2 linked regions of the Homo sapiens genome follow. The protein of the gene in region 2 purifies or fractionates together with the protein of the main gene of each other region. This does not show direct contact. Each region holds a gene or a part of one and is shown on either strand. Other genes may lie near its edges.

Region 1 (3,500 bases), on a different chromosome or scaffold from region 2:
ACCTAAAATATTTATCATCTGACCCTTTAAGAAAAAGTTTGCTGATACTTGCTCTTATGCGATTAGTCCCCCACTGTATTGTGTGTATCATATGTATATACATCTTTCTAATTCTGGTGTAGACCTTTGTGCTTCATCTTTGTTGGATGTATTTGGATACCTGTATATTCTTTAAAAATACATAGCATTGTTTCATATGTGTATTTTTGTGTTTAAACAAAACTTAAATATGTGGGCCGGGCGTGGTGGCTCACGCCTGTAATCCCAGCACTTTGGGAGGCCGAGACGGGCGGATCACGAGGTCAGGAGATCGAGACCATCCTGGCTAACATGGTGAAACCCCGTCTCTACTAAAAGTACAAAAAATTAGCCGGGCATGGTGGTGGGCGCCTGTAGTCCCAGCTACTCGGGAGGCTGAGGCAGGAGAATGGTGTGAACCCAGGAGGCGGAGCTTGCAGTGAGCCGAGATCGCACCACTGCACTCCAGCCTGGGCGACAGAGTGAGACTCCATCTCAAAAAAACCAAACAAACAAACAAAAAAAAAACAAAAAAAAAATATGTACAGTATTTTGCCAGAACCTCTTTGTATTCTCTGTGGTTCAACTTTGGTTTTTTAATTTGGGGTTTTTTGCTTTTTTGTTTTTTTGAGACGGACTCTCGCTCTGTCGCCAGGCTGGAGTGCAATGGTGCAATTTCAGCTCACTACAACCTCTGCCTCCCAGGTTCAAGCAATTCTCCTGCCTCAGCCTCCTGAGCAGCTGGGATTACAGGCGCCTGCCACCACGCCTGGCTAATTTTTCTATTTTAAGTAGAGACGGGTTTCACCATGTTGGCCAGGTTGGTCCCAAACTCCTGACCTCAAGTAATCCGCCTGCCTTGGCCTCCCAAAGTGCTGGGATGACAGGCATGAACCACCGTGCCTGGCCCAACCTTGTTTTGAGAACCCTCCATGTATCTGTAAATATAAATAGAATTATTACCTTTGACTCATGCATTGCATTTTCTTATTTGCAGTGAGTACCTTTATCTACATATTTTCTGGGTGATAAATACCCAGATTGTTTCCAACTTTATTTTTTCTAATTGTTTTTTAAATTTTCAAATATAAAACACATACAGAGAAGTATATAAAACATAAATGTACAGTGTATGAATAAATATAAAGCTAACACTCTTGTGAGAACCACTCTGCAAAACACAGCTTTGCCAAGACCCCAGCAGACCTCTCTGCAGCTCTTCCCATCCTCTTCCTCCTGTCCCTCTAAAGGTAATGACTCTCCTACTTTTGCTTTTCTTACCACTTGTCTAGTCATTCATAAACAGTTTTTCCTTTATTATTATTTTTGAGATTTTTTTTCCAGAGACAAAATCTCACTATGTCACCGAAGCTGGAGTGCAGTGTCATGATCTCAGCTCACTGGAGCCTTGACCTCCCAGGCTCAAGCAATCCTCCCACCTCAGCCTCCTGAGAAGCTGGGACCACAGGCATATGCCATCATGCCCAGCTAATTTTTTTTCTTTCTTTTTTTTGTTTGTTTTGGAGAGATGGGAGTTTGCTATGTCAACCTAGGCTGATAGGTCTCAAATTCCTGGGATCAAATGATCTTCCCACCTCGGCCTCCCAAAGTGGTGGGATTTTAGGCATGAGCCATCGTACCCACGCTTTTTCCTTTTTTAGAGATGGTGGGGGGTCTCATTGTTGCCCAGGCTGGATTTGAACTTTTGGGCTCAAGGGATCTTATCTCAGCCTCCCAAATAGCTGGGATTACAGGCATGTGCCACTGCACCAGCCTCTAACATTTTGAGTGTTATGGAAACAGCATGATAAAGTATCTATTTTCGTGTGTCTTGTTTCTTTTGCTCAGCATTATGTTTGTAAAATGCATCCATGTTGTCCTTGGAGTTACCCATTCCTTTCCATTGCTCTCTCTGCTGTATTTTGCTGCATATTCATCACATGGCTAAGTGTAGTTTATTTTTCTGGTTCTCCTGTAGATATTGAGGTTGTCCACAGTTAGGGCCAATAGGAACAATGCCCCTGTGAGCATTCTTGTTCAGAATCCACATCAACATGTACATGAGTTTTCCTAGGATATATTCTTGGAAGGGAAGTGGCTGGGTCTTAGGGTATGTATGTTTTGACCTATATTAGCTGATGCTAAACTATTTGCTGAAATGGTAGTTGTACCAATTTATATTCCCACCAGAAACAGGAGTTTTGTTTTTTGGAGTTTTTTTTGTTTGTTTGTTTGTTTTTTTGAGACGGAATTTCGCTTCTCTTGACTAGGCTGGAGTGCAGTGGCGCAATCTCGGCTCACTGCAGCCTCTGCCTCCTGGTTTCAAGCGATTCTCCTGCCTCAGCCTCCCAAGTAGCTGGGATTACAGGCATGCGCCACCACATCTGGCTAATTTTGTATTTTTAGTAGAGACTAGGGTTCTCCATGTTGGTCAGGCTGGTCTTCAACTCCCGATCTCAGGTGATCCGCCCGCCTCGGCTTGCCAAAGTGTTGGGATTACAGGCGTGAGCCACTGTGCCCGGCCTGCTCCTTTTTTTATTATTATTATTATTTTGTAAGACACGGTTTCAATCTGTCGCCCAGGCTGGAATGCAGTGATGTAATCTCGGTTTACTTCTACTTTTGTCTCCTGGGCTCCAGTGATCCTCCCACCTCAGCCTCCTGAGTAGCTGGGACTACAGTCACATGCCACCACATCCAGCTAATTTTTGTTGTTGTTGTTTCCTTATTTTGTTTTGTTTTTTCGAGACAGAGTCTCACTCTGTTGCTCAGTCTGGAGTACAGTGGTGCGATCTAAGCTCACTGCAACCTCTGCCTCCCGGGTTCAAGCAATTCTCCTGCCTCAGCCTCCAGAGTAGTTGGGATTACAGGCACACACCACCAGGCCCGGCTAATTTCTGTATTTTTAGTAGAGACAGGGTTTTACCATGTTGGCCAGGATGGTCTTGATCTCCTGAGCTCGTGTTCTGCCCACCTCCGCCTTCCGAAGTGCTGGGATTACAGGCGTGAGCCACTGCGCCCAGGCTCGCCTAAAATTTCATGCACCTACATTTTTTTTTTTGAGACAGGGTGTCACTCTGAGGCTGGAGTGCAGTGACGTAATCTTGGCTCACTGCAGCCTCCGCCTCCTGGGTGCAAGCAGTTCTGGTGCCTAGCCTCCCAGTAGCTGAAACTACAGGTGCATGCTGCCACACCCAGCCTAATTTTTGTATTTTTTGGTAGAGACGGGGTTTCATGATGTTGGCCAGGCTGGTGTTGAACTCCTGACCTCAAGTGATTTGCCCATCTAGGCCTCCCAAAGTGCTGGGGTAACAGGTGTGAACCACTGTGCTCAGCCTCATGCACCGACTTCTTACTGTTTTCTCCTACATTTGTTTTTCTTTTTGCTAGAATACATCCTTCAAGAGTTTTGTCAAAGAGAGCTTCTGTGGGGAAAACTTTCTGAAAATATCTTTGTTTCACTTTCATGTTGAAAATTGATG
Region 2 (3,500 bases):
CAGCTTCAGTTAAAATGCCACCATGGGCCGGGCGCGGTGGCTCACGCCTGTAATCCCAGCACTTTGGGAGGCCGAGGCGGGCGGATCACGAGGTCAGGAGATCGAGACCATCCCGGCTAAAACGGTGAAACCCCGTCTCTACTAAAAAATACAAAAAATTAGCCGGGCGTAGTGGCGGGCGCCTGTAGTCCCAGCTACTTGGGAGACTGAGGCAGGAGAATGGCGTGAACCCGGGAGGCGGAGCTTGCAGTGAGCCGAGATCCCGCCACTGCACTCCAGCCTGGGCGACAGAGCGAGACTCCGTCTCAAAAAAAAAAAAAAAAAAAAAAAAAATGCCACCATGAGGATAACTGAAGTGATTTCTTCAGGTAATGCAACCACATTACACTGGCATTTTCACATCTGAGTTAGCAGTTCTGCTGGAGCTTTAGGCACCCTGAGTCATAAGGCCCTCTGCATCAAGCCAGGTTTGTGTGCCGCCTGAGTGGCCGCAGCCCATAAGCAGCCATGTACGTTTTTCATGGATGTTAAATGTAATACAAAATAATACAACAAACAGCGATTCAACCAGTAATATAAAATCCATACAGGAGTAGAGGTTTTTCATCAGTGGGTACTCTGCTACCCTTGATCTTTTGAGGTACTAGTTATCCTAGTCTATAATCTTCCCTTTATTGGCCTAACTTATATTTTCTTACTTTATTTTCCACATTCCTTTTTGGCCCCTTGGCTTTCTTCAGCTCATTTCTTTGCATAGTTACTGATTCCTTTATGAATATTAAGCTTTATTTATTTATTGATACTCCAGTACTAAATCTTGTTTGTTACTCCCACTGGCACATTGGATTCCTCTCCTTCTAGCTCTCTGTGTCTCCAATCATTTCTTCTTTCTAAGCCCTTTCTTTCCTTCCAGACTTTCCTTAGTCTCTGACATATCTTTTTATCCTTATTCCCTATTCTGTCTTTTCCATAGAACTTTGCAACTTTACAGTTTAGTTGACTGCCTCCTCAGTATGTAAACCTTTCTCTATGTCTTATATAAACTTCTCAATATTTTGTCTTACACTCTCCGTCCTTCACATTGTGTGTTGTTTTATAAACATGCTAGCAATAATCATGTATATTTCATTTGGATCATCCTTTCTCTTTCCTGGTGACATTTGTTTTTCCATTTCAGATGAAGACATCAAAACTACAAATGTGAAATCTGCTTCAAGGCAAAAGACTTCTTTAGGCATAGAACTGCATTGCAATGTTTCCAATATCCTTCATATGAATGGCTCCCAGAGTTCCACATATAGAGGAACCTATGAACAAGATGGTAGGTTTGAAAAGAGACAAGGAAACCCTTCTTGGAAAAAACAACAGAAATGTGATGAATGTGGCAAAATCTTTAGTCAGAGCTCAGCCCTTATTTTACATCAGAGAATCCACAGTGGAAAGAAACCTTATGCATGTGACGAGTGTGCAAAGGCATTCAGCCGAAGCGCAATTCTGATTCAGCATCGACGAACCCATACTGGTGAGAAGCCCTACAAGTGTCATGACTGTGGCAAAGCCTTTAGTCAGAGCTCAAATCTTTTTAGACATAGGAAAAGACACATTAGAAAAAAAGTCCCATAAGTATCATGAGGGAATCAAAGCATTTACTCAGAGCTATTTCAGCACAAGGGAAGACACCAGATGCAAACGCTCCTTAGTACAAATCAGTGGTCTTAGTAAGCACCAGTCTCCTTTCAAGACTCATGAAAGCCACAGGAGAGAAGGTTGAAGATCTCAGGTCAGCATTATTTGCTTTTCTGCTTATCAATGCAGTCTCAATTCTGACGTTTGCAATTCCAAAGCTTAATTCAGATTTCCATCCCTATGCAGGCCTTGAAAAGGCATTCTCAGACATGTTCTACTATTTTCATTATTAACACATATAATGAATTAGTATATATCTTTTTAGACAAGTATGTTTTTTCCCTCATTGAGAAGGAATGTGTGAGTTACTCAGTGTAAAAATAGACATTCTCCTCCATTTCATAACTTGAGCACTAGAATTCTAAAGACCAAAAATTAAAGCACTCAAAAAGAATTCCTGGCTGGGTGCGGTTGGCTCATGCCTGTAATCCTAGCACTTTGGGAGGCCGAGGCAGGCAGATTGCCTGAACTCAGGAGTTCAAGACCAGCCTGGACAACACGGCGAAACCCCGTCTCTACTAAAATTCAAAAAATTAGCCAGGCATGGCAACGTGTACCTGTAATCCCAGCTACTAGGGAGGCTGAGGCAGGAAAATTGCTTGAACCGCTCAGACAGAGCAAGACTCCGTCTTTAAAATAAATAAATAAATAAATAAATAAATAAATAAAAATAAAAATAAATTCCTATTTTGTCTTCTGTTACTAGATTCAAAATATGAACATGCGATTGCAGAGGCCCAAAAGAATATGTACTTCAAGACTAGGCTGAAGTGCCCCAGGTCACTTTCAGGAGGCAGATAAATAAAGGCCTTATCTTATGAAAGCACACAAGAGCCTCCATACTATTAATATCAAGTTAATTTCCCGTGTTGGAAAAAAATAATCTCCTTTGCAATGTAATTTGGAAATAAGTCAATGGAAACATGAAAATGACTGCTTGTCTACAAGGAGTCAGCTAAACATAAGGAATGTTTTCATAACAATATTAATCTATGGGTGCTTCTGTAAGATGGATGATCATCTTAATATAAAGAAAAAAGGGAGATGAACAAAATTGTCAAACAAGACTGATGTACCACAAGTGTTGTCAAGTACAGTGTGTGTCGGAGAGATGTACCACAGCTTAACTGGAAGAGGAAGCCCGTAACTGCTGATGACAATACTTTCAGTGTCCCCTTTTCTGGCATAAATCAACTATGAATATGTTTCAAGCATCACAAGACAACCTTTTCAGAGTCTTCTGTATTCTTAGTAAGATGAGTTTCTAGACACGCTGTCATGAAATGAGACCCTGGATTTTGATGCTCTTGTACATATGGACAAATCACTGAAGTTCAATTTAAAGGGTCCACTGCAGTCCCTTATAAACAATTGTTGAACCTAACCATTATAGTTTATAAGTTTTAAGACATTTATGGGATATCTTATTTGGCTTATCTATGGGATATGAGTAACTATGTTTTACCTGCATTTAATTCAGCCAGATTCCCTGTTTAAAATTACTGAATCGTACATTATTAAAATTATTCTGACAGTATACAAACAACAAAATTATCTATTTTCCAGAGATTCTTGATAAAACTCTGTAATGTTACTACAATAATACATGTATTGTGTTTTCCATGGTGCTACAGTTACACAATATGGAGGCAAACATCAGAAATCAAAGTCCTTGGAATAAGGGAAGAGACTCATAGTAAACTTCTTTGTCTGGTTGGGTTCCTCATAAAGTATAAAACATTTCATTCTCAGAAAATCCAACCATATCTTAGAGTATCTCCAGAAACTGGCTTAGAGGAGCTCCAAATATGTGG

The links.
Region 1: the proteins of ZNF396 (region 2) and BCL7B purify together in Homo sapiens (affinity purification with mass spectrometry; one large-scale study listed by BioGRID and IntAct). This does not show direct contact.

What each region holds. Positions count from the first base shown.
Region 1 is NC_000007.14:73,547,691-73,551,190, reverse strand, and holds part of BCL7B (B-cell CLL/lymphoma 7 protein family member B), read left to right. Parts: intron 1-3,500. UniProt on the Homo sapiens protein: Positive regulator of apoptosis. Plays a role in the Wnt signaling pathway, negatively regulating the expression of Wnt signaling components CTNNB1 and HMGA1.
Region 2 is NC_000018.10:35,367,338-35,370,837, reverse strand, and holds part of ZNF396 (zinc finger protein 396), read left to right. Parts: intron 1-1,177; coding exon 1,178-1,623; 3' UTR 1,624-2,392; coding exon of another isoform or gene 2,393-2,487; 3' UTR 2,488-3,500. UniProt on the Homo sapiens protein: Isoform 1 and isoform 2 act as DNA-dependent transcriptional repressors.